2 linked regions of the Homo sapiens genome follow. The protein of the gene in region 2 interacts with the protein of the main gene of each other region in a biochemical or structural test. Each region holds a gene or a part of one and is shown on either strand. Other genes may lie near its edges.

Evidence for each region.
Region 1: of the proteins of USP30 (region 2) and PAICS, one has a biochemical effect on the other in vitro, tested with the Homo sapiens proteins (one study listed by BioGRID).

Annotation. Positions count from the first base shown.
Region 1 is NC_000004.12:56,460,220-56,465,078, reverse strand, and holds the end of PAICS (bifunctional phosphoribosylaminoimidazole carboxylase/phosphoribosylaminoimidazole succinocarboxamide synthetase), read right to left. Parts: 3' UTR 501-4,859; downstream 1-500. UniProt on the Homo sapiens protein: Bifunctional phosphoribosylaminoimidazole carboxylase and phosphoribosylaminoimidazole succinocarboxamide synthetase catalyzing two reactions of the de novo purine biosynthetic pathway.
Region 2 is NC_000012.12:109,048,170-109,055,577, reverse strand, and holds the start of USP30 (ubiquitin carboxyl-terminal hydrolase 30), read right to left. Parts: upstream 3,003-7,408; 5' UTR 2,900-3,002; coding exon 2,817-2,899; intron 2,797-2,816; exon of another isoform or gene 1,541-2,796; coding exon of another isoform or gene 1,536-1,540; intron 1,073-1,535; exon of another isoform or gene 786-1,072; intron 1-785. UniProt on the Homo sapiens protein: Deubiquitinating enzyme tethered to the mitochondrial outer membrane that acts as a key inhibitor of mitophagy by counteracting the action of parkin (PRKN): hydrolyzes ubiquitin attached by parkin on target proteins, such as RHOT1/MIRO1 and TOMM20, thereby blocking parkin's ability to drive mitophagy.

The sequences.
Region 1 (4,859 bases), on a different chromosome or scaffold from region 2:
AGCCTATAAATATGGGGCTTAACCTGCCATTTTTGAAACAGGAATCTTCCAAACCATAGTGGTGTTTTGTTTTTTTTTTTTTAAATAACAAATTTACATCTCACATTGTGAAGGATGGAAAGATTGTCTGGTGAGGGGCCACTCTGATTCATAGATGGCATCTTCTGTTTTCACATGGTGGGAAAAAAACCAGACTGATCTCTTAAAGCATGTATCTGATGCCACTTTCCTACCCTCACGATAAAATCCGAACTCCAAAGAAGAGCAGTAAGAGCTTTTGTGATCTGGCCTCTGCTTGCCACCTCCCCAACTCACATAGGTCTCTATACTTATTTCCTAGCCCCCTTGCATGCTATTCACCTCTAACTTCCATGTAGTTATGTGTCCCCCTACCTCCTGGAATTTGCATTTTTATTCATCTGACAAGTGTTTGTCTTGTATATGCCAGTGCCGTGTATTACACCAGTTGCTGTGATACAGCTGACAACAAAGAAGACAGCCCAGTGTAATACATTTATTTTCTAGTTGGGAGAGATGGGTAATAAATAAACATGTACTATGTTTGGTGGTAATAAGTTTGCTGAAGAAAATTATGGAAAGGTAAGAGAGATTGAGTATAGACTGTGGAGAATTAGTCTTTTTCATTCACAGTATACAATTGTTTTCTAGAGATCAGAGTCCTTCCTACTTTTGTGTATTCACAATACCCTATTGTTAATTCCATATTAAGACTATATACGGTGTTTTGAAATTGTCTGCCTCTGGAGACTTCCAAGATTCATTGAGAGCAGAAGGTTAATTTTGTTCATCTTTGCATTCCCAGGGTCTTATATATACATAATAGGCTGTATTTGTTCTCTAAAAAATACAGAACCAATAGGATATGTACAGATTATGAGAAATTGGCTCTGCAAAATGGAGGTGAAGTCCCACAGTCTGCCTTCTGCAGGCTGAAGGCCCAGGAAAGCCAGTGTAGTTCCAAACCCGAGGGCTTGAGAATCAGGGGAGGCAATAACGTTAAGTCCTAGTCTGAAGGCCTGAGGACCAGGAGCACCAACATCTGGGGGCACGAAATGGATGTCCCAGCAGTTCACCCTTCTTCCCCTTTTTTGTTCTATTCAGGCCCTCAATGGATTAGATGACGCTCACCCACATGGGTGAAGGCAGTCTTCTTTACTCAAGTCTACTGATTCAAGTGCTAGTCTCTTCCAGAAACACCATCACAGATGTACCTAGAAATGTTGTTTGACCAGCTATCAAGGCATCCCGTAGCCTAGTCAAGTTGACAGAATTAGCCATCTCATCAGTATCCACAATGTATTTTTATATTAATGGATTTAGCCTGAGAAGCTTCCATGTACAGTATCTTTTTTTTTTTTTTTTTGGCGACAGATTTTCGCTCTTGTTGCCCAGGCTGGAGTGCAATGGTTCGATCTCAGCTCACCACAACCTCTGCCTTCCAGGTTCAAGCGATTCTCCTGCCTCAGCCTCCCGAGTAGTTGGAATTATAGGCATGCACCACCATGCCTGGCTAATTTTGTATTTTTAGTAAAGAGGGGGTTTCTCCATGTCAGTCAGGCTGGTCTTGAACTCCCGACCTCAGGTGATCTGCCCACCTCACCCTCCCAAAGTGCTGGGATTACAGGCGTGAGCCACTGCACCCAGCCTCATGTACAGTATCTTATGGTATCTTGTCAACTCAGAGGCAAGCAGAAGAAATAAGACGTGAGCCACCGCGCCCAGCCTCATGTACAGTATCTTATGGTATCTTATCAACTCAGAGGCAAGCAGAAGAAATATTTAGCTCCATTTTATAACTTGATTTCCATTCCACTATTTTCATTGTACTGCAATGTGAGATTAACAATTCCACCCCAAGTATTTGAGGTGTGGGAAGCTGGATGTAAAAACACCATTAAAAACAACTCTTTTCAATGGCTTTCTAAGGTTGGCTGGGCTGAAATGGCAGGTTGTGGATGCTCCGTGGCACATCACACTGCCCCTTTCTTCATATTAGAAATTAAATCAGCCGATGGCAATATTGAATTCCAGGTAATTTTCTTTCTTTCTTTTTTTTTGAAACAGAGTTTTGCTCTTGTTGCCCAGGCTGGAGTACAATGGCGCAACCTCGGCTCACCACAACCTCCGCTTCCCAGGTTCAAGCGATTCTCCTGCCTCAGCCTCCTGAGTCGCTGGGATTACAGGAATGTGCCACCATGCCCGGCTAGTTTTGTATTTTTATTAGAGACTGGGTTTCTCCATGTTGGTCAGGCTGGTCTCGAACTCCTGATCTCAGGTGATCCACCTGCCTCGGCCACCCAAAGTGCTGGGATTACAGGCATGAGCTACCATGCCCAGAGAATTCCAGGTAATTCTCATGGTGAATGAATTCCATTCATACTGTTGTTCTTCAGTCTGCCAAATGGATATTACATAACACATTTGTGTGCCATGATGGGCCTTACATATATTGACTCATGTAATTCTCACAACTTTATGAGGTGGTATTAGTCGCATTTTCATTTCATGAAATTGAGGCACAAAAAAATTAGACATGTTGAAGATCATACATCATCCCTCACCTGGGCTACAATAGCCTCTTAACTAATCTCTGCTTCTCCTCTTGTCCACACAACAGCCAGAGAACCTTTAAATATGTTAAGTATGTCAAGCCTCTGCTCAAACTGAGTTTTTCCTGTCACACTTCAGTGTGGCCTATAGGCCCTAAGTGATGTAGCCTTTGCTTATATTGTCTTCCACTCTCATCCTTGTTCACAGAGCTCTAGCAATTCTCATGTTTGGAGGTCCTCAAGGCAAAACTCAGCTTTATTTCCCATTCCCTTAGTATGGAAAGCTATTTCCCTATCTGTGTGTCTTGCTTTTACATCATTGCTCTGCTCTCCTCAAAAACCTTCCCCTCTTATCCCCATCACCGTCCTCATTTTGATTCTTCATATACATTTATCCTTTCCTGATTTTATACTGTTTACCTTTTTATGGTTTGTTTTCCCCTCTAAAACATAAGTTCCATCTGGACAAGGGCTTTGCTCAGTCCTATTTTCCTAGGCCCTAGAATCAAACCAGTATTGGGTGAATGGATACTGAATGAAGCTTTACCTAAGTGCTTTGTCTTTTACTTAGTTTCAGTGGTTAAATCTCAGAAAGCTTAACAGCAATTCTAAGCATGTCTTTATCATAAAAGGTTAAAAACTGTATTATTGGGATATTTTTTCTCTTTTTATGTTTACCTACAAGCCCGTAGAAAGTATAAATACTCAAAAGATAGCAGACCAGGTAGGCTTAAGTTACTTTTACAAAACAGTAGAAATACCTTCAAATATTTAGCACTGATGAACTTACTACTGAGGACATGTGGACTCTACTAAGAAACTAATGATGAAATTCATAATTGGGTGTGGTAGCACATGCACCCAGCTACTCGAGAGGCTGCAGCTTGAGTCCAGGAGTTCAAGGCTGCAGGGAGCCATAATCATGCCACTGCACTCCAGCCTGGGAGACAGTGAGAACTTGGCTCTTAAAAAAAAAAAGGAAAAAAAATTGATAACGACAATTTGTAATGGTCAGTCCTATCCACCAGTCTAAATGAAAGTTTAAAAATTTTCATATACTGCACAGAAGTAGATGGAGTCTTAATGCTAGGTAAGGGTAAACAAGCTGAAATAGCAGTCAGTGACTTCAGAGACCATGAAACCAAAGTTAATCTTCTAAGTCCTTTTAATTGTTCTTATAAACTAGCATAAGATATAAACTTAAGTAGTACACATGAGTTTTATAATTTACTAATCTCTGACAGATAGCTAAGCATAGCACATCAGAGCATAACACAGTGTGAGGGAAATAAAGTGTACAATGACATCTTCTATTCTGGACCTAATAATTCAATAGAGAAAGAACTACTTGTAGTCACTGTGGTTACAGAAGGTTTCATGGACAGCGAACATAAAGCTCTACTAGCTAACAAATAGGTCTTAATGATAAAAACGTGGGCCTTCAGAGAACTAAAGGTACCAATGTGTGGCAGTCCAAAATTACGAGGAAAATGAGTTCCCTTCATGGGTCACATCAGCAATTTTTTTTTTCCCCTTTTGAGACAGAGTCTTGCTCTGCTGCCCAGGTTGGAGTGCAGTGGCATGATCTAGGCTCACTGCAACCTCCGCCTCCCGGGTTCAAGCAATTCTCATGCCTCAGCCTCCCGAGTAGCTGGGATTACAGGTGCCTGTCATCACGGCTGGCTACTTTTTGTATTTTTAGTAGAGACAGGGTTTCACCATGTTGGCCAGGCTGGTCTCAAACTCCTGACCTCAAGTGATCTGCTTGCTTCAGCCTCCCGAAGTGCTGTGATCGTAGGTGTGAGCCACTGTGCCCAGCTACCTCATCAATTCTTAATCTATAAACCATGGATAGGCTTCGGGAGAACCCAAGAACCAATGAAATCTGTTGGTAAGTTTTATGTGTGCGGTTTTCTACAGAGAGGGTCAACAGCATGTATATTTTCAAAGAAGTCTGTGGTGCAAAAGAGAGTTTATTGTTAGAAGTCCTTGGGCAATCAACTTGGAAAAGGGTGGATTGAGAATGGGGGCTGTCTAGATCAGGATAATGTTGAATTTGACCCTCACTTGAGGCTTTTGTACAGAGGATGAGAAGACGGTAAATTCAAGGGTTAATCAGAAATTAACACCAACATGACTTGGTGATGAGTGAGATGTGAAACGTGAGAAAAACATCAATGATGAAATCAAGCTTCTGACTTGCAACAGTGAGTATACCAAGAGCTACAGGCTTGGAAGATGAATAAAGTTGGGAGCATTCTGTTTTTTCATGAGTGCCCATGGGACAGA
Region 2 (7,408 bases):
AAATACAAAAATTAGCTGGGTGTGGTGGCAGGTGCCTGTAATCCCAGCTACTCTGGAGGCCGAGGCAGAATGGCTTGAGTCCAAGAGGCGGAGGTTACAGTGAGCCCAGATTGCGCCACTGCACTCCAGCCTGGGTGACTGAGCGAGACTCTGCCTCAAAAAAAAAAAAAAAAAAAATATATATATATATATATATATGTATATATATGTGTGTGTGTATATATATATAAAATATTTATTGAATGACTGAATACTGGAGAAAATATACAGAAATGAATTTCTCTTTTAGAATATTAGACAGGGAAGGGGCACACATACAATGGTATAAAAGAGCTGAATATTTATAAAATTAAAGATTTCCTAACTTCAGGCTTGACTTGAACGCTGGTTATGCTTTTGCTACATATTAAGAAATTTCCCCAACAATTTAAAACATTGTTTTTATACAAAGTTATATATTTCTACAAAATAAGACAAACCATCTATGTGTATATAGCTATGTAATGTGTATCTGCATATATGTTACACATGCATACATACGTGTTTGTGTGTGTGTGTGTGTAATACATTATTATCCCAGTATTTGGATCATGTGAATATTGTTTTGATTTCAGTTCAGTAAACATTAACTTGGTGAAGAGTCACTGGTGGTAATATTGACCCTGTTTTATAATAATCAGCATTTCTTAGTATCATAGCTGATAGCTGAATTTCAGATAAATATTTGTTTTCCAAGACAGAGTCAACAGAATATGCACCAAACTTGGTTAAGAAAGTGGGATTACCTTATTCTGGTTCAATCCTGGCTTTGCTATTTCATTTGGCATCACTTCACCTTCTAAGCCTCAGTTTCCTCATCTGTACAATGGGGACAATCCATAAGACCTACCTCATAGGGCTGTTGTGAGGATTAAATAAGTGTGAATGCATACAGTACATAGTAAGAACTTAATAAATGTTAGCTGCTACAAATTAAGCATTACAATCTCAGGATCATTCATGAAAGCTATTCTTTCTTTTTTTCTTATTTTTATTTTTATTTTTTTTTGAGACAGTGTCTTGCTCTAGTTGCTCTAGTGCCCAGGCTGGAGTGCAGTGGTGCCATCTCAGCTCAACACAATCTTCACCTTCCGGGCTCAGGTGATCCTCCTGCCTCAGCCTCCCAAGTAGCTGGGACCACAGCTGCACACCACATGCCCAGGTAATTTTTAAATTTTTTTGTAGAGACAGGGTCTCACTACATTGCCCAGGCTGGTCTCGAACTCCTGAGCTCAAGAAATCCACCTGCCTCAGCCTTCCAAAGAGCTGGGATTACAGGTGTGAGCCACCATGCCCAGCTGGTGAAAGGTATTCTTGAAGTTTCTTAATACATCACTGTGCTTTTACACGATACGTGAGTTCACAAAAGTGCCTGGAAAGATTATAAAGGACTGTCATGGAAGTGCTAAGGTGCTTTACCAGTGCTTTAAAATCCCCTAATCAAACACTAATATTTAAGGGTACATACTCTCTGCCAGGCCCTGTGACAATCTTACCTCATTTTTAAAACAACCCCACAGATGCAGGTTCTACTATCACTTTCATTTTTATAGCAGAAGAAACTAAGAGCCCAACTTGGTCACAGTGAGTGAAGGAACATGGCTCTGAATCATGCCTGTCTGTCTCCCCAGGTCTGTGCTTAAAACCACGAAGTTCAAGATGGAAACTGAAGGGAAGAGTGTCAAGGGGATGGGAGAGAGGACTTGTCCATGACTTTGGCAGCATAAGGAAAAAATACCCAGGGACAAGTGGCGACTTTGGAAACTCCATTCCTCTGCAAAATGACATCACGAGGAGAGTGGTGGGGCCTGCGGATGAAAAGATCTGGCTTCTCCTCCCAACTCTGCTATGAGGTCAGCTATGGGGCCACACTTCCTATCTACGGAATGGGGGCACTGGACAGGATAAGTATCGAGGACTTTCAGCCCTGGGATAATAAGCTCTTTAAACCTGCTCCAGTTCCAGAGGAAGCCGACCTGAGCAACAGGTCTCAGTCATTTGGGGTCAGCAGTGGGGGAGGGGGTACTCAGTTCTGAAGCCTGGAGCCCTTGGGAGGGTGAATAAGAGGGAAATGGGGGCCCTGACAGGATTGGGGACCCAGGCAATCGAGGAGTCCTAACAAGAACGGAGGGCTTTAACAGGACCAAGCAACCTTAACAGGTTAAAGGGGCCCTGACCAATTTAGAGACCCTTGCAAAACAAGGGCCTTTACTCACACTAACAACATCAGGGACCCAGACAGAAGTGGCGATCCATATTAGACTAGAGGGCGGGCTAACAGGAATAGGGGGCGGTACTAACAAAACGCGGGGCTCGCAGGCCCGGGGCACTTATAGGACTAGAAGAACCGTGCCAAGGTTGGGGAACCCTGGCAGTCCAGAAACTGATATGATTGGGGGACCCAGAAGGACTGGGGGTATACTAGAAGGATTGAGGGGTCTTGGCAGGCCTAGGAGGCACTGAAAGGACTGAGGGCACTGACAGAATTAGGGGCCTTGACAAGACTGGAGTGCCCCGGGTGTCCTGGGAACAATGACAGGAGGGGGAGGGACTGACAGACCTGGGGAGTGCAGACAGAATTGGTGTTGCCGAAGGACTGGAGCCCGTCAGTCCTCCCACCTACGGGCCCAGGCCTCCAACCCTAAAGGACGCAGAACCTTCCAGAATGCCCGCGCGGGCCCTGGAGACCCCAACTAGGGCATGAAAAAGCCGTCACGGGCCCAAGCTGGGGACCCTGGTCCCGGCCTCTTCGGCAGCCCCGCCCCCCAAAATCTCACCTGACGGCCGCCCCGGTCCGCAGGAAGCGCTGGATGGCCCTGTCGGCCGCGGTCATCGCCGCCTCGGCCCGGGAGCTCAGCATTGCAGCCGCACCGGAGGCCTGAAACCGTCTCCTCCGCTACCGCCGCCGCCGCCGCCGGACCGAGGGATACGACGGTTCCCGAGACAGCGGAACCTGCGGCCGCAGTCCCAGCACCTCGGGGGAACGTAGACCGCAGGACAGCTCCCAGGGGGACCGGAAGTAGCTGCCCCCGGAGAGCAATAGCTGACGGACCACGTCCTTTCTTTCTTTTCCCTTAGCAACAGGCCCCGGCGTCGGTTGCTACGCTGGGCTCAGTTGCCTGGGGCTGCTTGGTTTTCAGATTTGCTTAGGCTCCATTCATAAATACAGATGGCACACTTCTAGGATGGACCCTGGGTCATGATTTGAATTTTTCGATGTGGGGAAGGGAGGCCAACAGCCGAAAGTCGGGTCAGGCCTCTGCTATAATTAGTTATTATTGTGGCCAGAGTGGAAATAGGTCGCAGAGGAAGGAACTTTAATGAGCATGAGGCCCATCTCTGACGATATCAGTAGAGAAATCAACGTCTTTAATAGCCAACAAACTTATTGTTTACTTGGGTGCCAGGTATAGAGCTAAGTATGTTACATTCATTATTTACATTTAATATTCACACCAACTCTAACATTACCCACATTTTACATCCCAGGGAACCCAGGAAATTTGAAGAAATAGTAAGTTTTTTGACGCAGCTTGTAAGTGGTGAAACAGAGATTGGCAGTTCGGTCTGTCTGTCTCCAGAATGGCACTCTCCAACAGAAATATACAGGAGCCACATAGGTAATTTTACATTTTCCAGTAGCCACATTAAAGTGAAAAGCAGGAGGTAGGCCAGACGCCGTGGCTCACGCCTGTAATCCCAGCACTTTGGGAGAACGAGGCTGGTGGATCACCTGAGGTCAAGAGTTCGAGACCAGCTTGGCCAACATGGTGAAACCCCATCTCTACTAAAAATACAAAAATTAGCCGGGCGTGGTGGCAGGCTCCTGTAATTCCAGCTACTCAGGAGGCTGAGGCAGGAGAATTGCTTGAACCGTGGTGGTGGAGGTTGCACTGAGCCAAGATCATGCCACTGCATTCCAGCCTGGGTGACAGAACCAGACTCCATCTCAAAAAAAAAAAAAAAGAGGTCAGGTGCGATGGCTCATACTTGTAATCCCAGCACTTTGGGAGGCCGGGGGGTGGGGGTGGGGGGCACGGATTGCTTGAGGTCAGGAGTTCGAGACCAGCATGGCCAATATGGTGAAACCCCGTCTCTACTAAAAAATACAAAAATCAGCCAGGTGTGGTGGCGCGTGCCTGTAATCCCAGCTACTCGGGAGGCTGAGGCGGGAGAATCGCTAGAACCTGGGAGGCGGAGGCTGCAGTGAGCTGAGATCACACCACTGCACTCCAGCCTGGGCAACAGAGAGAGATTCAGCATCAAAAAAAAAAAAAAAAAAAAAAAAAGCAAGAGGTAAAATTAATTTTAACCATATTTTTTCCTTGACCCAATATGTTCAAAATATTGGGGCAGGTGCAGTGGCTTATGCCTATAATCCCAGCACTTTGGGAGGCCAGGTGAGAGGATGGCTTCAGGCCCAGAGTCCAAGGCCACCTGGGCAACATAGCAAGAACCCATGGCTACCGAAAAACAAAGAAAAGAAAAACAAAATATGTCATTTCTATGTGAAAATTATTGATGAGATAATTTACATTCTTTTTTTTTTGAGATGGAGTCTTGCTCTGCCGCCCAGGCTGCAGTGCAATGGCACGATCTCGCCTCTCAGGTTCAAGCGATTATCCTGCCTCAGCCTCCTGAGTAGCTGGGATTACAGGTGCACACCACCACGCCCGGCTAATTTTTTTGTATTTTTAGTAGAGACGGGGTTTCACCATGTTGGTCAGGCTGCTTGAACTCCTGACCTCGTGATCCATCCGCCTCGGGCTCCCAAAGTGTTGGGATTACAGGTGTGAGCCACCGCGCCCGGCCCATTATTTTTTTGTTTTTTGGTACTAAGTACCTCTCAGTTTGGAGTACCCACTTTTCATGTGCTCAATAGCCCCAAGTGGCCAGCAGCTACCGTATTGGACAGCACAGTTTATAAAGCATTAGAGCCAGCAAGATTTTTCCCTCCCTTTCAATCGCTTTCTCCGACTCCAGACTGAGTAATTGCATTCATGCTGGGGGTGGTGTCGCATACCTGTAGCCCCAACTACAGAAACAAAACAAAAGAAATCAATGCATTAGATCAGTAGTTCTCAAAGTTTTTGTTCTCCGGATCTCTTTGTACGCTTAAAAAGGATTGAGGGATTTTGTTTATATCTAACTGTACTCTGTTAGAAATTAAAATTGAGAATTTTTGTTTCCTTAAAATTGAGGTATATAGGTATATCTTGTTTTTTTGTTGTTGTTGTTTGTTTTTGAGATGGAGGCTCGCTCTGTGGCCCAGGCTGGAGTGCAGTGGCGTGATCTCAGCTCACTGCAAGCTCCGCCTCCCGGGTTCAAGTGATTCTCCTGTCTCAGCCTCCCGAGTAGCTGGGACTACAGGCTCCCGCCACCACGCCCAGTTAATTTTTGTATTTTTAGTAGAGACAGGGTTTCACCATATTGGCCAGGCTGCTCTTGAACTCCTGACCTTGTGATCCACCCACCTTGGCCTCCCAAAGTTCTGGGATTACAGGTGTGAGCCACCGTGCCCCGCCCGGCATATCTTGTTTTATTGCACTTCACTTTATTGTGCTTCGAAGATACTGCATTTTTACAAGTTCAAGGTTTGTGGCTACCTGACTACAGCAAGTCTATTGGCACCATTTTCAACAGCATGTGCTCACTTCGTGTCTCTGTACCACATCCTGGTAATTCTTGTAATATTTCAAACTTTTTTTTTTCTTTTCTTTTTTGCAATAATGCCTCACTCTGTCATGCAGGCTGGAGTGCAGTGGCGCAATCTTGGCTCACTGCAACCTCCACCTCCTGGGGTTCAAGCGATTTTCGTGCCTCAGCCACCCAAATAGCTGGAATTACAGGCACGCGCCACCATGCCTGGCTAATTTTAGCGTTTTTAGTAGAGATGGGGTTCCACTGTGTTGGCCAGGCTGGTTTCGAACTCCTGACCTCAGGAGATATGCTTGCCCTGGCCTCCCAAAGTGCTGGGATTACAGGCGTGAGCCACCGTGCCTGGTCCCAAAGTTTTTCATTATTATTACACCTATTAAGGTGATCTGTGATCAGTGATCCTTAATGTTACTATTGTAATTGTTTTGGGGTGCCACAAACAGCATTCAGGTAAACCAGCCAACTTAATCGGTATTGTGTATGTTCCAAGTGCTCCACTGACTGGCTGTTCCCCCCTCTCTCTCACTCTTCTCAGGTCTCCCTAGCCTGTAAGACACAACAATATTGAATTTCAGTCCACGCCTCTAAATGTTCGAGGGATAGGAAGAGTCGCACATCTCTCACTTTAAATCAAAAGCTAGAAATGATTAAGCTCAGTGAGGAAGGTGTGTCAAAAGTCAGGATAGGCTGAAAGCAAGACTTCTTGCACCAAACATTTAGTCAAGTTGTGAATTCAAAGGAAAATTTCCTGAAGGAAATTAAAAGTGCTACTCCAGTGAGCAGAATGTAAACTAAAAATCCTAAGCCCCGCCAACTGACTGAATGGGCCCCCTCTTGGCCAAGGGGACCTTCAAGAAACCTTAAACACTGAGTTCCCAGCCATAATGAGATGAGAGGTCAGACATGCCTCCTTATACCCTCTTCCTTAGAAGTTTAGACACAACAGCTGACCAGCCTTAATGTTGAAACAGTGATCATAAGACAGACAGAATGGACTGTTTGTGGCAATAAGATACCAAATTATAAACAGGATCTAAGGTCATGCCAAGCAAGGATTGCGTTACACACCCCTGCACTTAAAGAATAAACTGTTTTACATCCGGTTTTTCTTTTTCTTTCTTTTTTTGTTTTTTTTTTTTTTGAGACAGAGTCTCACTCTGTTGCCCAGGCTGGAGTGCAGTAGGGCGATCTTGGCTCACTACAACCTCCACCTCCCAGGTTCAAGCCATTCTCCTGCCTTAGCCTCCTGAGTAGCTGGGACTTCAGGTGCGTGCCACCACGCCTGGCTAATTTTTGTATTTTTAGTAGAGATGGGGTTTCGCCATGTTGGCCAGGCTGGTCTCGAACTCCTGACCTCAGGTGAATCAAGATACGGAATCACCACTGCCCACAAGTGACCCCCTGGCCCTTGGTACTCACCCCCCTCCACCCCCCTTCAACCCCTGGCAATCACTGATGGAAACAGAAATATTTAAAACCCAACAATACTGAAGCAGGCCAGGCGCGATGGCTCACACCTATAATCCCGGCACTTTGGGTGACTGAGGGTGAGTGGACCCCTTGAACCCAGGAGTCTGAGACGAGTCTGGGCAACATGGTGAAACCCTGTCTCTACAAAAATACAAAATTTAGCTGGGTTTGGTGGCACACACCTCTAGTCCCAGCTACTTGGGAGGCTGAGGTGGGAGGATTGCTTGAGCCCAGGAGTTAG